Linked DNA regions of Homo sapiens: region 1 is linked to region 2. Evidence: fine-mapped expression QTL. A gene starts in region 2. The other region holds a variant in brackets. All regions are shown on one strand. Distances are from middle to middle. Region 1 overlaps ZC3H18 (zinc finger CCCH-type containing 18). Region 2 holds the start of ZC3H18 (zinc finger CCCH-type containing 18).

Evidence for each region. PIP is the estimated chance that this variant, and not a neighbour inherited with it, causes the effect.
Region 1: its variant is fine-mapped to the expression of ZC3H18 in whole blood (INTERVAL, PIP 0.97).

The regions. Positions count from the first base shown.
Region 1 is chr16:88,589,630-88,601,829 of GRCh38, forward strand. It overlaps ZC3H18 (zinc finger CCCH-type containing 18), which reads left to right. Exons shown (of 18, transcript NM_144604.4): 4 at 8,549-8,697; 5 at 8,991-9,083; 6 at 10,162-10,319. Among named protein-coding and RNA genes, the nearest start is that of ZC3H18, 25 kb to the left of the region's middle. RefSeq lists enhancers at 1-186, 2,082-2,331. The variant G/A (reference allele first, on the strand shown) is at 7,244.
Region 2 is chr16:88,565,346-88,577,545 of GRCh38, forward strand. ZC3H18 (zinc finger CCCH-type containing 18) reads left to right here and starts at 5,058. Exons shown (of 18, transcript NM_144604.4): 1 at 5,058-5,221; 2 at 11,765-12,200. The coding sequence starts at 11,779. RefSeq lists enhancers at 4,239-4,348, 4,459-4,508, 5,599-5,648 and silencers at 4,749-5,078, 5,259-5,328.

The DNA of each region.
Region 1 (12,200 bases), 24 kb after region 2:
TGAGTGACAGAAGGGAGCACGGAAGGCCACAGATCCACAGAGACAGAAAGTAGATTGTGACTCATGCCACAATGTGGACGAGCCTTAAAGACGTGCTGAGTGACAGAAGGGAGCACAGAAGGCCACAGATCCACAGAGACGGAAAGTAGATTGATTCCTCGTTGCCTGGACTGGGGGTGGAGAGTGATAGCTAGTGAGTACAGGATTTCCTCTTTGGGGTGATGGAATGTTCTAGAACTAGCTAGTGGTGATGCTTACACAACTTTGTGAATATACTGCAAACCAGTGAATTGTACACATTAAATGGGAGTATTTTATGTTATGTGAATTGTGTCACAATTAGAAAATTCTTTTCTTAGAAAAAAGTCGGTGGCTGGGCATGGTAGCTCATACCTGGAATCCTAGCACTTTGGGAAGCTGAATGGGGAGGATCACTTGAGCCCAGGAGTTAGAGACCAGCCTGGGCAACATTGCAAGAGCTCATCTTTCTTTTTTAAATTACTTGTAGAGATGGGATCTCACTATATTGCTCAGGCTGGTCTCAAATACTAGGCTCAAGCAATCCTTCCACCTCAGCCTCCCAGAGTATGGGGATGACAGGCATGAGCCACTGCTCAGGCCTCTCTTAGCTTTATCTCCGACACGTTGTGATATAGAGATTAATCATTTAATCGCTTAGTGGACACATTGAGATTTGTGACCAAATGACAGCAAAATGCACTGGGAACACACCTTGCTCACATTTTAGAGATCAGTGCTTTGTGTACGCCTGCCCGGCTCCACAGCACATACACTACAACTGGAGCTGTACTTCTTCATGGGATGTTTTTATCTCTCGTGGGCCTGTGTTGGATCATCAGGACACAAAGTTCTGTCCACAGAGGAGTAAGTAGCATCTTCTTTAAACTGTGTCCCACTTTGGGTTTCTTTATTTCTTTTTTTTTTTTTTTTGAGACAGTGTCTCGCTCTGTCACCCGGGCTGGAGTGCAATGGTGAGATCTCGGCTCGTTGGAACCTCCACCTGGGTTCAAGCTATTCTTCTGTCTCAGACTCCCGAGTAGCTGCGATTACAGGCATCTGCCACCACCCCCAACTCATTTTTGTATTTTTAGCAGACATGGGGTTTCATCATGTTGGCCAGGCTGGTCTCGAACCCCTGACCTCAGGTGATCCGCTCACCTCAGCCTCCCAGAGTGCTGGGATTACAGGTGTGAGCCACCACACCCGGCCCCTACTTTGGGCTTCTGATTTATCCCTCAGTGAACAAGCATCCCAGTCCATTTTTTGGGTCTGATCTCCTTGGCTGTGCTCCCCCTAATTTTTTAAAATTGTGGTGGAATACTTTTTTTTTTTTTTTTTGAGATGGAGTCTTGCTCTGTCACCCAGGCTGGAGTGCAGTGGCACCATCTCGGCTCACTGCAAGCTCTGCCTCCTGGGTTCACGCCATTCTCCTGCCTCAGCCTCCTGAGTAGTTGGAACTACAGGCGCCCGCCACCACGCCCAGGTAATTTTTGTAGTTTTTGGTAGAGACGGAGTTTCACTGTGTTAGCCAGGATGGTCCCGATCTCCTGACCTCGTGATCTGCCCTCCTCGGCCTCCCAAAGTGCTGGGATTACAGGCGTGAGTCACTGCACCTGGCCTTCTGTCTTTTTAAGACTGAATAATAGGTGCGGTGGCTGATGCCTGTAATCATAGCACTTTGGGAGGCCGAGGTGGGTGGATCACTCAAGGTTAGGAGTTCGAGACCAGACTGCTCAACATGGTGAAACCCTGTCTCTACTAAAAATACAAAATTAGCTGGGGGTGGTAGAGCACACCTCTAATTCCAGCTATTTGGGAGGCCAAAGCAGGAGAATCGCTTGAACCCAGTAGGTGGAGGTTGCAGTGAGCCAAGATCACACCACTGCACTCCAGCCTGGGCAACAGAACGAGACTCCGTCTCCAAAAAAAAAAAAAAAGATTGACCAATATTTGTTAGTGTGGAGCAGCTGCATTGGGTGTTTCCCTCATCTGTGGGTGGACACTTGGGTGGTTTCCACCTCTAGGCAATTGTGAATAGAGCTGCTGTGAACGTGGGCGTAAAAATCTCTTCAGACCCTGCTTTCAGCTCTTTCGCATGTGCCTGGCAGTGGAGTTGCTGATGACCTGGTGGTTGTGTGTTTCATCTTTTGTGGAACTGCTGGCAGCGGAGTTTCTGATGACGTGGTGGTTGTGTGTTTCATCTTTTGAGGAACCGCTGGCAGTGGAGTTGCTGATGACCTGGTGGTTGTGTGTTTCATCTTTTGAGGAACCGCTGGCAGCGGAGTTTCTGATGACCTGGTGGTTGTATGTTTCATCTTTTGAGGAACCGCTGGCAGCGGAGTTGCTGATGACCTGGTGGTTGTGTGTTTCATCTTTTGCGGAGCCGCTGGCAGTGGAGTTGCTGATGACCTGGTGGTTGTATGTTTCATGTTTTGAGGAGCCGCCAAGCTGTCTTCCACAGTGGCTGTGCCATTTTACTTTCCCACCAGTGGTGTGGGGGCTTCCAGTTTCTCCACGTCCTCACCATTACTCTGTTCTCTGTTTTTTTTTGATAGTAGCCATTTCAGTGGGTAGGAGGTAATATCTTACTGGGTTTTGATCTGCCTTTCCTGAAGATGGGTGGTGGGGTGTCTTTTTTCATGTGCTTAATAGGTCATTTGTGTATCTTCTTGGAGAAATGTCTTTTGCTCAGTTTTGAATCCTTGCAAAACTGTGTTTAAAGCAGCAGGTCTGAGTGTCATCTGTGAACCCCTGGGAGTCCTTGAGACCCTTTCAGGGGACCCTGAGGTCAAAACTATATTTATTTATTTTTCTTTTTCTTTCATTTTATTTTACTTTTGTGAGATACAGTCTCCCTCTGTTGCCCAGGCTGGAGTGCAATGGCGTGATCTCAGCTCACTTGCAACCTCCACCTCCCGGGTTCAAACGATTCTCCTGCCTCAGCCTCCCGAGTAGCTGAGATTACAGGCGCATGCCACCATGCCTGGCTAATTTTTGTATTTTAGTAGTGGCTAAATTTTGTGTTTCAGTTGGTCAGGCTGGTCTCGAACTCCTGACCTCAAATGATCCGACCGCCTTGGCCTCCCAAATCGAAACTATATTTATAATAACAGTAAGGCTGAGCCAGGCATTCACCATGCACTGGCATTTCGAATGCCACTTTACTTCATGTCTGTGCTGTAGTAGTAAGAACTGTAATTTAATTAAATCTTACACTTGTGTACAGATGTATTATTTATTTTTATTATTCGTAAGTTCTTTTTAAAAAACTTTATTAAAGTAATATTTATGTGCCATGAAATTGACCCATTTTAAGTGTACAGTTCCATGATTATATAAGCATATCCCTATGATAAAGTTTAATTTATAAGTTACGCACAGTAAGAGATTAACAACAATAGCCAATCATAAAATAGAGCAATTGTAATAAAAATGTGAATGTGATCTCTCAAAAGAGCTCACTTTACTGCACTCAGCCACTCAGCCATCTGATGACGTGGGATGAAATATGCTCGCATGATGACACGGAGGCCCTGCCACTTAGCATTGGGCCCCCCTTGACCTCCTGCCAATGCGTCAGAAGGAAGGTCACCTGCCCCCAGTGATCCTGGGTCACTGAGCCACAGTGAGCACAGCACCGCCGTACCCCCAACGGTTGTTGGCCAAGAGGGCTGCTAAGTGACTAGTGGGCAGTTAGCGTCGTGGACAGCTTGCATCTGCTGGACAAAGGGATGATTCGTGTCCCAGGTGGGGCAGAGGAGGTCGGCACAAGATTTCATCACGCTGCTCAGCACAGAACATCATTTAAAACTTAGGAATTATTTTTGGAATTTTCGATTTAGTATTTTCAGACGCAGGTAACTGAAACTGTGGAAAGCCAGAAAGCAGAGCTTCTGTGTGTGTCTCAGTACTCAGCGTGGTGGAGTGGCAGCGTGGGTAGAGCCCCTGCCGGCACCCAAGTCCAGCGGCCTCAAGGGGCAGCACGTGCAAGGCTGGAGCTGCGGCTGACCCTGTGCGCTCTCCGTGGAGCACACATTGATGAGAAAGACTGGCAGACATGCCAGGGAATGCAGATCCGGGTCCTGGCAGGAACAAAGTGAGCCTGTGGCTTCAAGGAGAACAACGGACAGTGTTAGCAGTATTAAAATTGGAGCTTTCAGTTGAAAATTGGACTTTTGTGTGCTCACCAGCTTCTCAGTGTGTCAGGACTTTCTCAGGTGACCATTGCAGGATGTCACAGAATCATGCCTGGGTAAAAGACCCATTCAAAGTTCAAGATAGACCAATGGATTTCAGAAGAACCAAGTTGGAAAAGTGTGGTGATAGGGTTCAATTGCAGCTCGCTGTAAGGAGCCTTCCCTTGCTGAGTGCGGTGTCAGGGAGAAGCTCTGAGCACACTGAAAAGGCTTTTAGATGCCCCTCCCTCTCTAGCTGCATCTCTTCCTGGGGCTGTAATGTCCTCTCCTGCTTGAGCCACAGCGGCCCTTCATGGTCGATCGCATGCAGATGGGAGGCCAGGGGTTTTCCAGGGTCAGCATTCAAGAGATTCGCAAAAAGGCAAAGAATGCTATTCCTCTCACCAAATATTTTAAAAACAGTTTCATAAATATTTGTTACTATATATTGGATATCTTGTTATTGTTAAATAATGAGATATCTTTAAGTGTCTCTTAATTTCTAATATCGTACGTATCAATAGAAATGACACATATAAACCAAGTAAACACAGGGAATTGATATTTACTGTATTCAAAATCAGAAGAGACATTTAAAGATACTTCATGTGTGGGCTGTGCTGGAGCATGAGCTGAGCCTCAGTTCCTGCCACCTCTGTGTTTAGTTTCCGGATTTTCCATGTTTCCTATCTGTTTCCTGTCTGTTTCCCTGATCCAGTTTGGGTTGGTTGCTACTGAGCATGCAGGTTCCCTTTCTGTAGTTACATTGTTTAGTGAAAAAAAGCAAGGTTCAGCACAGAGCATAATATATATGCTCAGGTAAAAGGGGGCAATGATTGATGGATGGAGCCCCAGTATATTGATAACTGCCTCTGGGAATGGCCCTGGAGGCATGGGATAGGTGGTCAACTTCACAGTGTACCTTTTAGAGTGGGTGGGTATTTTTTATTTACAAGTATTTCATTTGATTATGAAATATTTCATATATATAAAATAATACAGTGTTTACACAAGCGTAAAGATTAATAAGAGAATAAAACAGTTGGCTGGGCGTGGTGGTTCATGCCTGTAATCCCAGCACTTTGGGAGGCCGAGGCGGGCGGATCACCTGAGGTCGCAAGCTCAAGACTAGCCTGACCAACATGGAGAAACCTCGTTTCTACTAAAAATACAAAATTAGCCAGGCGTGGTGGTGCATGCCTGTAATTCCAGCTACTCGGGAGGCTGAGGCAGGAGAATCACTTGAACCTGGGAGGCGGAGGTTGCAGTGAGCTGAGATTGTGCCATTGCACTCCAGCCTGGGCAACAAGAACAAAACTCCATCTCAAAAAAACAAAAACAAAACAAAAGAAAAACCAGTTGCTGCTGTGCCGACATTCCAGTTAAGAAAAAGACCATCATCCTGTCTTGAAGCCAGAAATAGTACTTAGACATTTCAGCAGTGGAGGGGCCGCCTCCGCCCCGCTCCAGCGGCCTCTGTCCCTCCTTGTCCTCTTCTGGCCTGAGGCCATGTCTGTGTACACAGTATCCGCAGAACTATCTTTATACTGTTAGAATCACAATCCACATAAATTTTGGGTTTGAAGTCCCATTTGTAAACCAGAAGATCTTTATTGTTGCTTCTATTTTCTGGATAATTTCTTTCTTTCTTTTTTTTTTTTTTTTTTTTAACAAATTGCTTTTTAAATTATGAAAGTAAGGCTGGGGACGGTAGCTGACACCTGTAATCCCAGCTCTTTGGGAGGCCGAGGTGGGCGGATCACCTGACTTCAGGAGTTTGAGACCAGCCTGGCTAACATGGCGAAACCCTGTCACTACTAAAAATACAAAAATTAGCCGGGCTTGGTGGTGCACACCTGTAATCCCAGCTACTCGGGAGGCTGAGGCAGGAGAGTTGCTTGAACTGTGAGGCAGAGGTTGCAATGAGCCTAGGTCGCTCCACTGCACTCCAGCCTGGGCAACAGAGCGAGACTCCATCTCAAAAAAAAAAAAATTAAAAAAAGGAAAGAAAGTAATATGGGCTGGCAGAAGGCAAGAAAATAAAATCTAAAGCCCCTTCCCACATTCCCGACAGTTGGGTGTGTTCCTACACAGATAAAAGTTCACATTTTAAAAAGATAGATGGGACAATGGTGTTCTTTCTGCCTGACGTCTGCTGGAAGTGTGTCCCAGCTAGACGTGCAGACCAACTGTGCTGCTTTCCAGAGCCATCTTCCCCTTTACTCTGGCCAGGGGCAGGACAGCGCTCAGCACCCCCGGGCAGGTGGCTCCCGAGAGCTGAACACTGTCACCCACTAGTGTCTGGTCTCTAGTGGCAGCCCCACGCTCGCCTTCTCAGCTTGCTCTTTGGCGCTCACTGGTTTGTTCTCTTCTGCCTTGTTCCTCTTTTCTCCCCATGCCAATATCAGTGAGAAAGGATCTTTTTTGATAGTAGGTTCGTAGGTGATGTCCTAAAAATTTTCATAAATACAGAAAAGAACGATAACATTTAGCCACCACCCAGATACATATTTTAGATGAAAAAGAAGTACAGAGGCCGAGTGTGGTGGTTCACGCCTGTAATCCCAGCACTTTGGGAGGCCGAGGCTGGCAGATCACAAGGTCAGGAGTTCGAGACCAGCCTGACCAAGTTGGTGAAGTCCCGTCTCTACTAAAAATACAAAAATTAGCCTGGCATGGTGGTACCCGCCTGTAATCCCAGCTACTCAGGAGGCTGAGGCAGGAGAATCACTGACACCCAGGAGGTGGAGGTTGCAGTGAGCCGAGATTGCATCATTGCACTCCAGCCTGGGACTGTCTCACTCAGTCAGAGTGAGACTCCATCTGAAAAAAAAAGGAAAAGGAGTACAGAAAAGCTGTGGTTTCTATTGTCAGCACTTTTCTGTACTTGGACATTTTTTACAATGAGCTTTTGTTACTTGTTTAGTTACACACGTGATTTTGAATACTGCATGAGTATTTTCAGAGGCAAACCATGAAGAGCTCTGTAGTGTGTTGAGTCTCAGATGGATGACTGCATAGTCAGTTTTTCTTTAAATCTCTCTGAG[G/A]CTCTGGATTTTTGAACCCCCTATAGAATAACATTTCCCAACCTCTTTTGTTTTTTGTTGTTGTTTTTGAGAGAGACTCGCTCTGTTGCCCAGGCTGGAGTGCAGTGGCACGATCTCGGCTCACTGCAAGCTCCACCTCCTGGGTTCACGCCATTCTCCTGCTTCAGCCTCCCAAGTAGCTGGGACTACAGGCACCTGCCACCACGTCCGGCTAATTTTTTGTATTTTTTAGTAGAGACGGGGTTTCACCATGTTAGCCAGGATGGTCTTGATCTCTTGACGTCGTGAGCCACCACGCCTGGCCTCCCAACTTCGTTTGACTTATGTGTGATCTCTGAAATGCTTTTAGAAATTTTAAAAATTACTTGTCATTTTTGCATTTCCAGAGAAGCAGTTTTAAGTTTTCTTTCGTGTTTAATTTGGATCGATATTGTTATTATGTTGTATTGAGTTGGTTTTAATGCAGGCTTAAGTGTTCCTGATGTTTAAGGTTAAAATTTTAAATGATTTAAAATCTAACTGCATGTTAACCCATTGAAAAAAATTTTTAAACCGCTTAGATACTATATGCCATATTTGGTTTTAAACAATGTGTACACATTATCTATTCCCAAAAAAGTACATTTTAAAAAAGTGATTCACTCAGTAATTGAGTTAGACACTTAGATGTCTTATATTCTACACTTGAAAGTCGAGGTCTCCTTTACTAACCCGGATATTCTGTTGAAGATGAAGGTTTGTGATTGTTATTTATGAGCAAAGTGTAAAAGCCCGTTTCAGTTCCAGAAATATCTTGAAATGCCCTGTGAGAGTTTTCTCTGTGAGAGAAATGCAGACGTACAGAGGTGGCCAAGGGGACCCTGAGCACACCTGCAGGCTTCTGATCATTGTTAATGCTTCTCATTGATGTCTGTTTCGGCACAAATACAATTAACATCCAGTTGTACCTAGATGAGCCTGGGCCAGGGCTGGAAGCAAAGCTCTGGGGCTTTTCTGGTTTAAGGGGAAAATTAATACTCAGACAGTTGATACGCGTGAACTCTCCACAAAGTGACTTTGTGGTCACTCTGACCGAGGTGCCTGGCAGCCTCTGGGGAACTGCCGTGCCTGGGCAGGTGCAGCTGTCTGGCTCAGCCTCTCCAGGCTCATCCCGCCCACCTCCCCGTTCAGTTCCCACTACTGTGTGGCTCGCCATCAGGCCTGGGTAAACATGGCCTCTGCCCCCTCCCACCCCCCACCCCAGCAGCTGCCCTTGTGCAATTAGGCTCTTGTGGACCCTTTCTGATCTCACTTTTGTTTCCATAGGGAACTGTACCTGGGGAATGAATTGTAGGTTTATACACCCTGGAGTGAACGACAAGGGGAACTACTCCCTAATCACCAAAGCCGACCCCTTCCCGCCTAATGGTGCCCCGCCTCTCGGACCTCACCCGCTGATGCCCGCCAACCCTTGGGTGCGTGATGCCTCTTCTTTCATTGTTAGCACATCAGCCAACTGAGCTGTGTCTGAATCTCAAGCTTAAGACAAGTCACTGTGCCTTAGCACAGGCTCAGTGCCCCCTTTCGGCTGCTTCTGTCGTCCCGAGTGGAAGCAGGCCTCGGCTTTCCGAGGACGGAGTGAGGCTTGGTGGAAGGAGAGCGGCCACACACGGCCGGCTTGTGTTGTAGTTGATGTTTTTACTGTCTGGTTTCTCTGTACACTTGAAAGTTTTACTTTCTCACCTTCTCCCTTCTCGTTTTTCAATAGGGTGGGCCGGTAGTTGATGAAATTTTGCCTCCACCCCCTCCAGAGCCCCCAACAGAGAGTGCCTGGGAACGAGGACTCCGGCATGCAAAGGAGGTAAACACAATTCAGCAGAAATCCCGACAAGAAAGATGCTATTACAGGAGTGGTTCTTGACAAAACTGGGATTTCCTCGGTCCAGAGAGAGCCCCAGAAATCTCTGAAGTTAGGCGTCTGTTTCTGTGGTGTCTTTCTTTATTTTTTATTTATTTATTTTTTTGGAGACAGAGTTTCACTCTTGTTGCCCAGGCTGGAGTGCAATGGCCCAAACTCGACTCACTGCAGCCTCCGCCTCCCAGGTTCATGTGATTCTCCTGCTCGGCCTCCCAAGTAGCTGGGATTACAGGCATGCGCCACCAGGCCCGGAAGGATGGAGAGTTATATCTAACTGTCTCAGGCAGCAGCCCAGTAGGCCAGGGAGTTCAGTCCAGGGCATACCCACTGTCTTCATGGGGCTGGATCAGCACTGGGCCACACCCCAGCTGGCACTGCCCAGGAGCACAGGGTGCAGTCTCCAGCCACTCACAGAAAGCCTGGCGAGGCTGCCCGAGCCGCACCCCCAGGATCTGCACCCCACACTCCTGAGACTCAGTGTCTGCTCTTCCTGGAGAAAACTTGGAGCTTTCTGGTCCTATCACTGCACACTTCCTCCCTCTAGGCCCACGTTGGCCCCAGTGTGTGAGCTTCAGCTCTGGGGACCACTCTGCTGGCACCCAGCCCCACTTCCTCATTTTCCTGGTCAGCCTCCCTGCTGGGAAATGACGGACAAGATGTTCCTTCTCACTCCCTCGGCATGTCACTTCCTTCCCTCTGAGACTCCAGCCACTCCACCTGCTGCTTGTCACTGAGTGACTGAACCCTGGATCTAGTTCCAAGGGTAGTTGAAGGAAGTGATGAACACCTCATGTGGGCACACGGAGGCCGGGGGCAGCTGTTTGTGCAGAGACGGGCACAGACTGCCCTCCCCAGAAGGACAACTGTGCTGTGTCCGCCCCTCACCCCTTGAGCACTTGCAGCGTGCAGCTCCTGCTCCTGCAGGGCTGCTGCGGTCGGGTGGGACGGCTCCCTTTGTGTTTCCTAACAGCGACGCCCGGTATTCTGTTCCATGTTGACTTCTTTCTTCTTACAATGGTAGGTTTTAAAAAAAGCAACTATTCGAAAAGAACAGGAGCCTGATTTTGAAGAGAAAAGGTTTACGGTGACCATTGGCGAAGACGAACGGGAATTTGACAAAGAAAATGAAGTTTTTCGAGATTGGAATTCTCGGATCCCGAGAGATGTCAGAGACACAGTGTAAGGAATGGCCCTGCCTGCCCCTCCGTTTCCTTCCTGCATGCGGCCACGCTCCGGAGAGAGCAGCCATGTGCAGGGCCCCAGGGTGCGCTCGGCTGAGACCCAGCCCCACTCACTGGAGTCTCAGTGACGTTCCTGAGAGCATTCAGGCACGGTTCTCAGAGCTCATCTCAGTTTTTTGCTTCTAGGAAGGAAGCGTTAGGGCTCTGTGCCATGGGCCTTGACTGGCAGCACTCACACCGTTGTGGTTCCTGAGCTCTGAGAGTTTTCGCTGCTGTCCTTGAGGCCTCTAGAGCCCCACAAGTCTGTGTTTCTGGCTCCTCACCCCTGCCCACATTACCCAGGAGCCAGGAAACGTGTGGAGGTTGCCACAAGCCAGGAACACAACAGCTGCGGCCTCTTCGCTGTCAGGGCTGTTCTGCCTTCACTGCTTCTCCTCCAGGGCATTGATGGCTGGTTTTTGTTTTTTGGTTTTTTTTCCCGAGGCAGAGTCTTGCTCTGTCGCCCAAGCTGGAGTGCAGTTGCGCAATCTTGGCTCACTGCAACCTCCGCCTCCCTGGGTTGAAGTGATTCTCCTGCTTCAGCCTCCTGAGTAGCTGGAACTACAGGTGTCTGCTACCACACCCAACTCAGTTTTGTGTTTTTAGTAGAGATGGATTTCACCATGTTGGCCAGGATGGTCTCGAACTCCTGACCTCAAGTGATCCACCCACGCCTGCCTCCCAGAGTGCTGGGACTACAGGCGTGAACCACTGCACCCAGCCCCTTTATGCCTGGTCTTTAAAAATCCTGTCTTAACAGAAGAAGTGCCTGGGTCGAAGGGTGGAAGTCAGATCTTGGGGGATTGCATGGCATATAAAGTGCTGTTTTCCTCTGCCTGTGGATGGCACGGTGAGGTTCAGGGCAGGGAACTGGATTATAATTCGGGCAGATCTGAATTGGCACTCCATCATGCTGAGGCTTTAGCAGCCCTGTACATTTCTGGTTGCTATTAGGGAATCATAATCACTATGATTTCTATCTGGAGTGACAATAAACGGTGCTCAAAAAAGGAAGGCGTGCAGGGCTTGCACTCCAGGATTTGGTCCTGTCGACTTGGCCCTGCAAGGCCCTTCTCAAGGCCTTCTTGCCGCGAGCAGGCTACCCTGGGCTTTCCGCCTGCGGAAGTTGGGGGAGGAAGCCCCAGTGGCCCACACCTGCCCCAGCAGGTGAGAGCTTAGAGGTTAAAGGGATAGGTATTTAAAGACTTGGTTAACATGTACATTTTCTAATTAAGTTTTGTGTGGAATGTCAGATCACAGAAAGGAGCATTTGAGTCAGAACTCTGCAGGATCACCAGGGGTGTCTCCTGAAGCCCTGGAGGCCTTTGTGTTTTTTTGTTAGATGTGGATATCGTCTTTCCTTCCCCAGAGCTCGTGTGCACAGAGGTCTCTATAAATATGTGTGGGGAAGGATGGATTTTAGAACCTGGGCGTGATCCTTGACACTCTATTTCCAGTTTCCCTGGCTGGAGCAGGGACCGGAAAACTGCCTGCTTGGAAGTGGTTCGGCAGGTCTCTGAGGTTTTTTGGAGTGCCCTCTGTGTGTGTTTTACCTATCAGTGTTGGTTACAGAAACAGGTGTCTCCCATCCTGGCACCAGGTGACAGAAGCTGGCTCCTGGCTCCCTAGCTTCTCTCCCAGGAGCCGGTATCTACACTGCAGGACCCCCAAATGTTAAAGTCTCGGCAGTCAGGGCTGAAAGGTTTTCACTGGTGTCTGAAAGCCAGGTATTTCTGTATGTTTGTATTTTGTTTGTTTTTATAGAGTAGCCTCTGTGTATGTTACAGTTAACCTGAGGCCTTTTGTGCCATGCCTCCCCCGAGACCTGGTGAGTCAGGAC
Region 2 (12,200 bases):
CATGGTCTCTTCCGGCATTTTCCCGATCTCCAGTAATATTCATACCAATGTTTCTTGACTTTTTCTTAATAAGGGCACTAGTCACACTCCCAGCAGCAGAGTACGTGATTCTAGTTGCTCCACATTCTTGTGAAAAAAAAAATATGAAATTAATTTTTTAGACCAGTTTTAGGTTTAAAGAAAAATGAGAGGCCAGGCACAGTGGCTCACGCCTGTAATCCCAGCACTTTGGGAGGCTGAGGCGGGTGGATCACGAGGTCAGGAGATCGAGACCATCCTGGCTAACATGGTGAAACCCCGTCTCCACTAAAAAATACACAAAAATTAGCCAGGCGTGGTGATGGGCGCCTGTAGTCCTAGCTACTCGGGAGGCTGAGGAGAATGGCGTGAACCTGGGAGGTGGAGCTTGCAGTGAGCCGAGATTGCGCTACTGCACTCCAGGGTGGGCAACAGAGTGAGACTCCATCTCAAAAAAAAAAAAGAAAAATGAGCAGAGTTCCCCTGTACCCCCAGCACCCCTGCCCATCTCCCCTCTTATTAACACCCTGCACTGGTGCAGAACATTTATTACAATTGAGATAGGAGGCAGGACTTGACTCCAGAGGCAGGGCTTGGAGCTGGGACCAAACAGGACTGGCTAAAACAGGGCAGGGCAGAAGCAGCTTTTTATAAGACACACCAGACTGGGCGCAGTGGCTCATGCCTGTAATCCCAGCACTTTGGGAGCCCAGGCAGGCAGATCACCAGAGGTCAGGAGTTTGAGACCAGCCTGGCCAACATGGTGAAACCCTGTCTCTACTAAAAATACAAAAATTAGCCAGGCATGATGTCCCATGCCTGCAGCCCCAGCTACTCAGGAGATTGAAGCAGAAGAATTGCTTGAGCCCAGGAGACAGAGGTTGTGGTGAGCCGAGATCAGGCCACTGCACTCTAATGTGGGTGACAGAGGGAGACTCCGTCTCAGGAAAAGAAAAAAAAGACACACCCACCAGTGTTCTGTGTCAGTTTACCATCGCCATGGCAACACTCCCACCCCTTTCCATGGCAATGACTCAGTGACCCAGAAGTGACTACTCCTTCCCCAGAAATTTCTGCATAAACTGCCCCTTAATCTGCATGTAATTAAAAGTGGGTATAATGGGTCTGCAGAAGTGCGTTGAGCTGCTGCTCTCTGCCTTCTGGGCAGCCCAGCTCTGCAGGAGCCGTCACGGACCTGCCACACTGCCTCTTCAATCAAGTTGTTCTCTTCTACCTCCGGCTTGTCCTTGAATTCTTTCTTGGGCAAAGCCAAGAACGCTGGCAGGCTAAGCTCCACTTTGGGCCTCACCTGCCCTGCATCACAACCAACCAGCCCGTATCGGGACACGATCATTGACTTAAGTCCACAGTTTACATTACAGTTCACTCTTGGCGTTGTGCGTTATGTGGGTTTTGGCAAATACGTAACGTCCCATAGCTGCCATTATGGGACATTACATATTTGTACTTCTTCATACAGAAGAGTTTTGCCACCCCAGAAATGAGGCTTAAAAGTCATTTACCCACTTCCTGCTCTGGAAGAGGAGGGTCTGTGCTCTCACCGCCTGGCACGCCGTGTTCCATCCAGCCTCTGCTCTCTGAATGGTTTTTAGGCTAAATAAAATGTTTACTAAATATTTTTAAGCACTAATAACAATAACGGCCTTATGCAGTGGCTCACACCTGTAATCCCAGCACTTTGGAAGGCCAAGGTGGGAGGATCGCTTGAGGCCCAGAGTTTGAGACCAGCCTGGGCAACAGAGTGAGACCCCCACCTCTACAAGACCCCCACCTCTACGAAATGAACAAATAAACAAACATGATGGACTCCAGCTTAAAAACAGAACATCCCAACCAGGTCACGCTACTGACTATCAGCCCCCACCGCAGGCTCCGTGGCACTGCCTCCTGGTCACTGCTCCTGGGGCCCCCATCACCGCAGATTCGGCTGCCTGTAATGAGTCGCAGCAACACGAGCCGAAGCATTTGTGTCTGGTTTCTTCTGCGCAACATCCTGCCTCTGAGATCCATGTTGCTTGTAGGGGTAGCGTGTCCTTTTCGTTCCTGTACGATATTCCATTGCATGGGGGTTACACCCCAGCTGGTTCATCGTTCTGTCACTGAAGCACCTTGGGGTTCCTTCTAGTCCGGAGTGTAACGAGTCATGCTGGGGTGAACGATCTTGGATGTGCCTTTTGCTGGACGTAGCAGCTCATCTCTTCCGGGAAGTCACAGAGGAGTAGCACGGCCCAGGTGCCGCCGCACGAAGGCTGCGGTTCCGTGAGCGCCGTCGCAGGCTTCTGGAGCGGGGCCACCATTTTCACTCGAGCACAGGCCGCAGGCTCTGGGTGCCCCACACCCTCAGCAAAACCGCTCATGATTTCAATTTGATAGAAACGTGGACCGGGCGCAGTGGCTCACGCCTGTAATCCCAACACTTTGGGAGGCCGAGGCGGGAGGATCACGAGGTCAGAAGATCGAGACCGTCCTGGCTAACACGGTGAAACCCCGTCTCCACTAAAAATACAAAAAAATTAGCCGGGCGTGGTGGCGGGCGCCTGTAGTCCCAGCTACTCGGGAGGCTGAGGCAGGAGAATCGCTTGAACCCAGGGGGCGGAGGTGGCAGGGAGCCGAGATGGCGCTACTGCACTCCAGCCTGGGCGACAGAGTGAGACTCTGTCTCAAAAAAAAAAAAAAAGAAAGAAAGAAAGAAAAGAAATGTGCCCACCCTGTCTGCTTCTGCACTTGCCTTTGTCATGCAACCTCACAGATGGTCTTCACCCGTTTATTTATATCTGTGTATACACACTGGAGGTTCATGCGTTAGCATTTTTAACAACCGCGATGTTGCAAATGTTGTACCAGATTACTATTACAACAGTACAATCATCTGCTCATCAACATCTGGGTGGTTTTCTGGTTTTTTCCTTTGTTCTTTTTTTTTCTTGAGACGGAGTCTCGCTCTGTTGCCCAGGCTGGAGTGCAGTGGCATGATCTGGGCTCACTGCAAACTCCGCCTCCCGGGTTCATGCCATTCTCCTGCCTCAGCCTCCCGAGTAGCTGGGACTACAGGCGCCCGCCACCACGCCCGGCTAATTTTTTGTATTTTTAGTAGAGACGGGGTTTCACTGTGTTAGCCAGCATGGTCTCGATCTCCTGACCTCGCGATCTGCCCGCCTCGACCTCCCAAAGTGCTGGGATTACAGGCATGAGCCACCGTGCCCGGCTCCTTTGTTCTTTTAGTTATGACTACTAACAGACCTGCTATGTCCTTGTTCATGTCTCATGCCCACGGGCAGATGACACCCCAGTCCGGTGGCCCACCTGTACCACTGGGCATCAGAATCCCCTGAGAGCTCTTCATGGACCACAGGGCCCTGGGACCTCACTCCCAGTCACTGGTGCGGCCACTCTGGGGCAGAGCCCAGGAAGGCACATTGCTAACAACCCCTAGTGATACTGAGGCTGCTTGCCCGGGTCCCACTTGGAGAACCCTGTCGAGGGTGGCACTGCTGGTCACAGGGCACTTCTTTTAACTAACATTGTTTTCCAAAGAGGCTGTGACCAACAGAGTTTACTGTTCATGAAACTCAGATCGCAGACAGGCACGTGTCTGTCACAGCCGGTGCCGGCCGCTCCTTTCCATGGACAGTAACGTCCATGCAGGCTTATGTTCATCAGCTGAGAAAAGGGCACTTGCTGGGTGGGACCTTGTCTTATCGACACATAGAGTCTGCAGAAGGTGCCAACTGGTGTCGCAGGGCTGCTCCTGACACGACCCAAAATCACCAGGGTTGAATTCACATTCCTCTTACGTAACCATAACAAGTTGCTGGGACTACAGGCACGCACCACGGTGCCCTGTTAATTTTTTTGTAGAGACAGGGGTCTTGCTTTGTTGCCCAGGCTGGTCTCAAACTCCTGGAGGAGGTGGTCCTCCCACCTTGGACTCCCAAAGTGCTAGGATTACAGGTGTGAGCCACAGTGCCAGGCCTGTGGTACCTCTTCCAAGGACACTAATCCTATCAGATCAGGACCCCACCCTTATAATCTCATTTAACCTTAATTACTTCTCTAAAGGCCCTTTCTGCAAACACAGTCACATTGGGGATTAAGGCTTCACATACAAATGTTAGGGGGACAGAACTCGGTCCATAGCATGGAGTCGCACAGGTTTTGTCCTTTTGCGATTGGCTTGCTTTACTTAGTATGTTTCCAAGGTTCACCCATGTTGTGGCATGGGTCTGAACTTCACTCTTCTTGATGACTGACTCACACTCCACTGCATGGACAGCCAGCATTTTGTCTGTTCCTCAGTTTGTGGACATCTCGCCCCCTTGTTTCCACCTTGGGGATATGGAGGAAGATGGGATGAGCGAAGCCCTGTGATCCCCAGGACCAGCCACGTCGTTGGCAAGGGTCAGCGCAGGATGAAACCGCCGGCCCCTGGTCTCCGGCCGGGCCCTCCGTCTCTAGAGCAGCTCGCACCGCTGCAGCCCCTGGACGCCCCGGGCTGTGGACGCGCCCGTGGGACACCGCGCTGAGCAGGACACGCGACAGGTCCCCTCACTGGCGCTGCTCGCGTTGAACCGCGCGGGGAGCCAGGCAGCCCACGGGAAAGGTAAGAATTGTTAGGCTTTTAATCTAAAGTCGATACCTCAAAAAATAATTCCGGAGGTAAGCATTTAATATCAACATTCAATAAAGCAGGAAGTATCAGCCCGACGAAGACCGCCTTAAGTTTTCCACTTTGATGAACTCGATCATCCCCGGGGATGAAGAACCCGCCGGCCCAGCCGGAGCCCCGTCACGTGACCCGGCGGCCGCGGGGAGCTCTGTGCGCAGGCGCGGATCCGCACGCCCGCCGCCTGAGAAGCGAACTCCCCGTGGCGCCTGCGCTGTAGCGGGGGTTCGGCTGGCTCGCGCGGGTCCGGGCGCGCGCTGCGGGGGCGGAACCGCGCGGAGGCCGGAAGGAAGCTGGAGGGGGCGGGGCGAGGGAGGGAAGCCCGCCGGCCGTAGGACTACCGTCGCGGCCTGATGACGTCGCACAATGGCCGGCCCCCGCGGGTAGTGGAGCCCGTTTGTTCCGCCCGTGTCGAGCCTGGAGCCAGAACCTGTGAAGAGCGGAAGGGCCAAGGGACGTCTTCTCCACGCCGCTCCGACTCCAGGGGAGCCGTGGCCTCCTCTCCGCCCTAGCGCTGAGGTTAGCTGGGGCCGGGAGGGCGGCGGGAGGCCGGGCCGGCGGCGGCGGGAGGAGGAGGCCGCCGAGGCGGCGGCGGCGGCCGCGGGAGGGAGGCCCGGGAGCCCGGCGCGCCTCCGGCCGTGCGGACCCACCGGCCGAAGCGTGGCCCTCGGGCCCAGGGAAGGGGACCTTGAGACAGGCACCACCCCGAGTTCCGTCCGTAAGCCGGCCCCGCGGTCCTGGGGCGCCCTGGGCGCCCGAGCTCCTCGCGCGCTGCCTCCGCGCCCCGCGGCAGAGTTTATTTTCCTGAAGCTGTCATTTCTCTTCCGGGCCACTCGCGTGGCACATGTGTGCCGCCGGCTAAGGGGCGGTGAGAGGCGCCCAGATTCACCTCCAGAGTAGGTCATCCCGGGCTGCTGCTGGGCTCTTCGGAGAACTTTGAGCTCTTTATGAACCTCCTGGAACTTGCTCCGCAGCTTCAAAGTGTGCACAGGTTGGGCGCAGTGATTGCCCCAAGACGCGCGCCGGTCTCTTAGGAGTATGTAACTTCCTTGCCCCTTGGATTAGGAGATCAGAGGTGCTGGGTCCTTTATATAGACCAACTGCAGCTATAATGCTGGAAGAACTGAAACTTAACAGCCTTACTCCTGCCAAACATTTTTCCTGAATACTTTATGACAACTGAGTTTGCCGGGTAGAGTGGCCGTTTTAAATGAGCTTTGTTCGAACAACGCTAACTCATTTGCAAGAGTAGGTCATTCTTCAGACCCATTTGGGAAAATGGAAGAAGAGAGTGTTTGGCATCTGAAGTACCGTTTGGGGTGTAGCAAGGTGCTCATCATGTCTCCTGTTAGACTCACCTCCAGCCTGTTGTCTGTAGAGTAGTCCTTTCCCGTTCAGTAGTTGGGATTATCCGGGTGAGGTTTGACCTCGGCTGAATCCCGCTTCCCAGCTTTGGGAGGAGAGTCTTTTCCTGATAATTTTACTATCTAAGGGCAGTATGGAGCCCAGCCAGCCCTGGAACCAGTCAAATGTGTCCCAAAGCCGGAAACTCCTCTCCCGTTGTAGGTGGGACATGCTGAAATATTGTAAGAAAGCTTTGTGGAGTCACTCCAGAAAGCAAACAGGTAAGTTAACCTATGGCCTACATCGTGTTTACAGAGATTTGTATTTTGTCACAGCTACAGAGCATCTCAAGGTGAGTACCTCTTTATCAAGGAGTTTAGTGGTCACGCTTGGTCACTTTGCACGTGGGGTCTGTCACCAACCTTGATAACGTTCATTTAGATATTTTAAGTCCATGAGGTTATGAGTCAGAATTTTAACCAGATGTACCAGAACTTAGGCATTCAAATAGGTACTGCTCTGTTGAAAGTAATTGTCCCAAAATGTGCTTGTATTTCATCGGTGCTTCTTTGCCAGAATCTCTTTAGAACTCCTGTTGTGGTAGTAAAAATGTAGTCATATGGGAAAATCAGTCTTATTCAATAGTCACCCTCCAGGTTTGACCAAAAGTTTACTTACGTGGTTGGTAGCTCACCTTATCAGGTGAGACTCTGACTTGCAGCACTTTATCAAAGTGACTAGCTTGAGAGGAGGAAGATTTGCCACCACTAAGAATACCAGAAGACTTCTTTAGGCTTGGAAGGTCATTCGCAATGAGAAGGTCCCCAAACGCTCTGCATTTCAGCAGTGCCGTTGGAGTCTGTGCATCCTCCCAGAGGGGCTGCTCGGAAGGGAGGTAGCACCTGCTCTTTATTATTACTATTATTTTTTGAGACGGAGTCTCACTCTGTTGCCCAGGCTGGAGTGCAGTGGCAGGATCTCGGCTCACCGCAACCTCCTCCTCCTGGGCACTTATTTTAAATTCCTTTCTGGTAGGCAACAGGTAGTTCCTCAATTAACGAGTTTTTTGTCATGTATTCAACAAATATCTATCAAGTATCATCTGCCAAATGCAGAAAGCAACGGAGACGGGACGATGGGCACTTGTTATTTCATTCCTTAGGCAAGTTCACCCATCTGGTGGATCAGAGGACTAAGGATTTAGTTCTAAATTGTGCTGAAAATCTTCAGTTATAGATAGTGTAAGAAGACCAAACTGAGCACAAATTGCAAACGTGGGTATCAGTTGAGACTCTTCTACTGACACCCCTGTCTACACTTCTCATTTCATTGTCTACACTTAAGAGGCCACGTTTCCCTTCGTAGCACCTTATTACTATTTTTTGAAACGGAGTCTCACTCTGCTACCCAGGCTGGAGTGCAGTGGCATGATCTCGGCTCACTGCAACCTCCTCCTCCTGGGTTCAAGTGATTCTCCTGCCTCAGCCTCCTGAGTAGCTGGGACTACAGGCACGTGCCACCATGCCCAGCTAATTTTTGTATTTTTAGTAGAGACAGGGGTTTCACTGTGTTGGCCAAGGTGATCTCGAACTCCCAACCTCGTGATCCTCCCGCTTCAGCCTCCCAAAGTGCTGGGATTACAGGCATGAGCCACCACACCCAGCCAATTGTGTGATTTTTAAAACTAGTTTGAGGAGACATTTAGTTTTGCATAAAAGTTGGTTTATTTAAGAGATCACTTTGTTTCCAAGGTTGACATTAAACTATAAAACATGAGAATCAGAATTTGTCATATTTCAGGTCTGGGTTCAGCTTGGGGCATCCTACTGGGCACCAGGCGCTCCGCTTAGGCAGCTGGGGAGATGTGAACTACCTGCCCTTCTATGAGGAAGATGTTTATACATTGTAATAAAAAGTGTACGAAGATAGTATAGGGTGTTACTAATGTCGATAGCTAGGCAAGAGAGAGAATTGCCAGTTTGCCACCGGTGACTTACTGCCACAACCCCACGCAGACTCCCAGTCTTGAACAGTCAGTGCGTAGAGGCCTTAGCAGCCTTGGTGCTTTTCATCCTTGCTTTTGTTGCCTTGGGCTGCAGAAATGCTCTGTGCATCAAGCGCCCCTGTGATACTGTTTGGGGATCAGCTCCTTGACTTTCCCATTTTCAGCAGTGTATACCAGTTTAGGACTACCTTTAATAAAAAGACGAGGGTCTTACCATGTTATCTAGGCTGGACTCGAACTCTTGGGCTCGAGTGATTCTCCCACCTCAACCACACAAGTAGCCGGGATTCCAGGTACATGCCACCACTCCTGGCTTAGGACTGACTTTTTAATAATTCCTCCCAGTAGTCCTGTCTCTGGATAGTAACCGAATAGTGTACTTAGAAAACCAAAAAGTGAATCATTTTCAGAACTGTCTGCTTTTAAGTGACTTGGAATGGATTGGTTGGTTTGTAAATCTATGTTATTGCTAACCATTTAGGTTTTTTTTTTTGAGACGGAGTTTTGCTCTTTTTGCCCATGCTGGAGAGCAATGACACAATCTTGGCTCACTGCAACCTCCGCCCCCCCGAGTTCAAGCAATTCTCCTGCCTCAGCCTCCCGAGCAGCTGGGATTACAGATGCCCACCACCATGCCCAGCTAATGTTTTGTATATTTAGTAGAGACAAGGTTTCACCATTTTGACCGGGCTTGTCCTGAACTCCTGACCTCAGGTGATCCACCCGCGTCAGTCTTCCAAAGTGCTGGGATTACAGGCGTGAGCCACCACCCTTGGCCCATTTAGTTTTTATAAAGTGATGAATTTTAAATGATTTGAATTTTCTTTTGAGACGGAGTCTCGCTTAGCCACCACCTAGGCTGGAGTGCAGTGGTGTGATCTCGGCTCACTGCAACCACTGTCTCCCAGGTTCAAGCGATTCTCTCGTCTCAGCCTCCCAAGTAGCTTGGATAACAGGCACCTGCTATCATGCCCAGCTAATTTTTGTATTTTAGTAGAGACCGGGTTTCACCATGTTGGCCAGGCTGGTCTTGAACTCCTGACTTCGGATGATCCACCTGCCTTGGCCTCCCAAAGTGCTAGGATTACAGACGCGAGCCACCACGCCTGGCCAGATTTGGGTTTTTTTGGCTTTTTTGTTTTTTGTTTGAGTCAGGGTCTCACTCTGTCACCCAGGCTGAACTGCAGCCTCAACCTCCTAGGATCAGGTGATCCTCCTATCTCAGCCTCCCAAGTAGCTGGGACGACAGGTGCCCTACCACACCCAGCTAATTTTTTTTTTTTTTTTTTTTTTTTTTGGTAGAGATGGGGTTTTGCTATGTTGCCCAAGCTGGTCTAGAACTCCTGGACTCAAGTGATCCGCCCACCTCAGCCTCCCAAAGTGCTGGGATTACAGGCATGAACCACCGCACCTGACCAATTTGTTCTAATGTATCTTTTTTTTTTTTTTTTGAGACGGAGTCTCGCTCTGTCGCCCAGGCTGGAGTGCAATGGCGCGATCTCGGCTCACTCCAAGCCCCGCCCCCTGGGTTCACGCCATTCTCCTGCCTCAGCCTCCCGAGTAGCTGGGAACACAGGCACCCGCCACCACACCCGACTAATTTTTTGTATATTTAGTAGAGACGGGGTTTCACCGTGTTAGCCAGGATGGTCTCGATCTCCTGACCTCGTGATCCACCCGCCTCGGCCTCCCAAAGTGCTGGGATTACAGGCGTGAGCCACCGTGCCCGGCCTCTAATGTGTACTTAATCTTAATGATTTCCATTAACAGCAAAAAAAAAAAATGTTTAACTGTAGGTTGATACCAATTCTTGATACTGTGCATCTTTAAACAGGTTGTATTAAAAGTATAAATTTAAAAGATGAATATTTTTATCTTTAGTGTGTATGGTTATTTGAGATACAAGACATATAAATGTGTATGTGTATGACTTGCTGCGTCCGTAGTTATCTTGAGATGAATAATCTGTTTCCAGACCTTGCCGAGATGCCGAGCAGTGTGACCGTGACATACGTTATTTTAACAGCCTCACAGACTGAACAGTCAAGTGACCGCTGACCTGGCACTGTCCCTGCTGCTCCACACTCACTTGGTGGTGACTAGCTGCCCTGGTAGTGGTGGTGTGGCAAGTGTTTGCCAGGCAGGTGTTGCCGTTCTACACCTTCCTACCCGTCTTAACACCGTCCACTTTTAAAGCATGGGTAGCAGTGTACTTTCTATGAGTTTTTGAGGAGGGAAACTCGAAAATATTAACTTTATAATTTAATCTGGATTAGTAAAAATAGGAATGAAGTCTGAAGTGACCCCGTCTTTTTTTGTTTTTTGAGTTTTTTTTGGAGATTGGTCTCACTCTGTTGCCCAGGCTGAAGCACATTGATGCAGTCTTGGCTTACTGCAGCCTCCACCTCCTGGGCTTAAGCGATCCTCCTGCGTCAGACTCCCAAGTAGCTGGGAATATAGGCACGCACCACCACACTCTGTGACTTAGTTTTTGTTTGTTTGTTTGTTTTTGTTTTTGTTTTGAGACGGAGTCTCACTCTGTCGCCCAGGCTGGAGTGCGGTGGCGCGATCTCAGCTCACTGCAAGCTCTACCTCCTGGGTTCACGCCTTTCTCCTGCCTCAGCCTCCTGAATAGCTGGGACTACAGGCGCCTGCCACCACGTGCAGCTAAGTTTTTGTATTTTTCATAGAGACGGGGTTTCACCGTGTTAGCCAGGATGGTCTCGATCTCCTGACCTCATGATCCACCTGCCTCGGGCCTCCCAAAGTGCTGGGATTACAGGTGTGAGCCACCGCGCCTGGCCTGAATTTTAGTATTTTTTTTTTACAGAGACAGGGTCTCACCATGTTGCCCAGGCTGGTCTCGAACTGCTGGGCTCAAATGATCCTCCCGTTGCAACCTCCCAAAGTGCTGAGATTGTAGATGCGAGCCACCGTACCTGGCCAGCCTCGTCTTTTACATACGCGCGGTACTTAAGTGTGTCAAGTTTCCTGCCAGAGTTCTTTTCGACAGCAGCTACCTGTATGGGAAGAGGGGTTCTCAACTTAGGAGTGTGAGTTGCTGAGCGGGTGAACACAGCCCTCTCGACACCTGCTGGAGGGGCCAGTGAACACGCAGGCAGGGCTCTGAGCCTGCATTGCTAAAGGGCAGCCAAGGGATTCTCGGAGGCCCTCAGAGGCTGGCCTTCGAGAAGTGTGTTCAGTAACAGAAAAGGCTCCAGACTTGGACACTGCCGAAGGCTGGCCCAGGTTCCTGCTTCAGGATGACTCCAGAAAAATGGTGAGATCTGGGCCTGCAGTTTTGCTTCCTCGTTCCATGATACAGTTTATCTTTAATTTCAAAAGTAAATACTCCTCTAAGAATTCACACAGCTGTCCTTTGCGATCCGTATCGTTACTCACTTTCTGTTAACTCGTGTGGGCTGCCCTTGAGCGGGGAAGGGCTAGGCCAGGCTGCGTCTCCTTCTGCCACATCTCATTTTGCCAGATTGCCAAAAACGGGAGGCACTTAACACCCAGCTTAGCTGAGCAGTCTAGCCTTGTGGAGTGGAGTTATGGCCTGTCTTTCTCTGCAGAGTGGAGTGTGGGATTTGGGGCAGGGCCGTGTGGGACCAAGCAGGATGGAAGTCCTGCTGCTTCAGGCCAGGAAAGTAGGGACAAGGTTTGTTTTCCATTTTGCTAAAGGCTGTCAATCTGTATTCTCTCTTTTGCAGAACCGTGGGTACCGATGGATGTGGCCGAGAGCCCTGAACGGGATCCTCACTCTCCAGAGGATGAAGAGCAGCCACAGGGACTCTCGGACGATGACATTCTGAGGGACAGCGGGTCCGATCAGGATTTGGACGGGGCGGGGGTGAGGGCTTCTGATCTGGAGGATGAGGAAAGTGCAGCCAGGGGGCCGAGCCAGGAGGAGGAAGATAATCACTCCGACGAGGAGGACCGGGCAAGTGAGCCTAAATCCCAAGACCAGGACTCAGAGGTGAATGAGCTGAGCCGGGGCCCGACCAGCTCCCCCTGCGAGGAGGAGGGGGACGAAGGGGAGGAAGACCGGACAAGCGACCTTAGGGATGAGGCCTCCTCAGTCACCAGGGAGCTGGATGAGCATGAGCTAGACTACGATGAGGAGGTTCCTGAGGAGCCAGCTCCCGC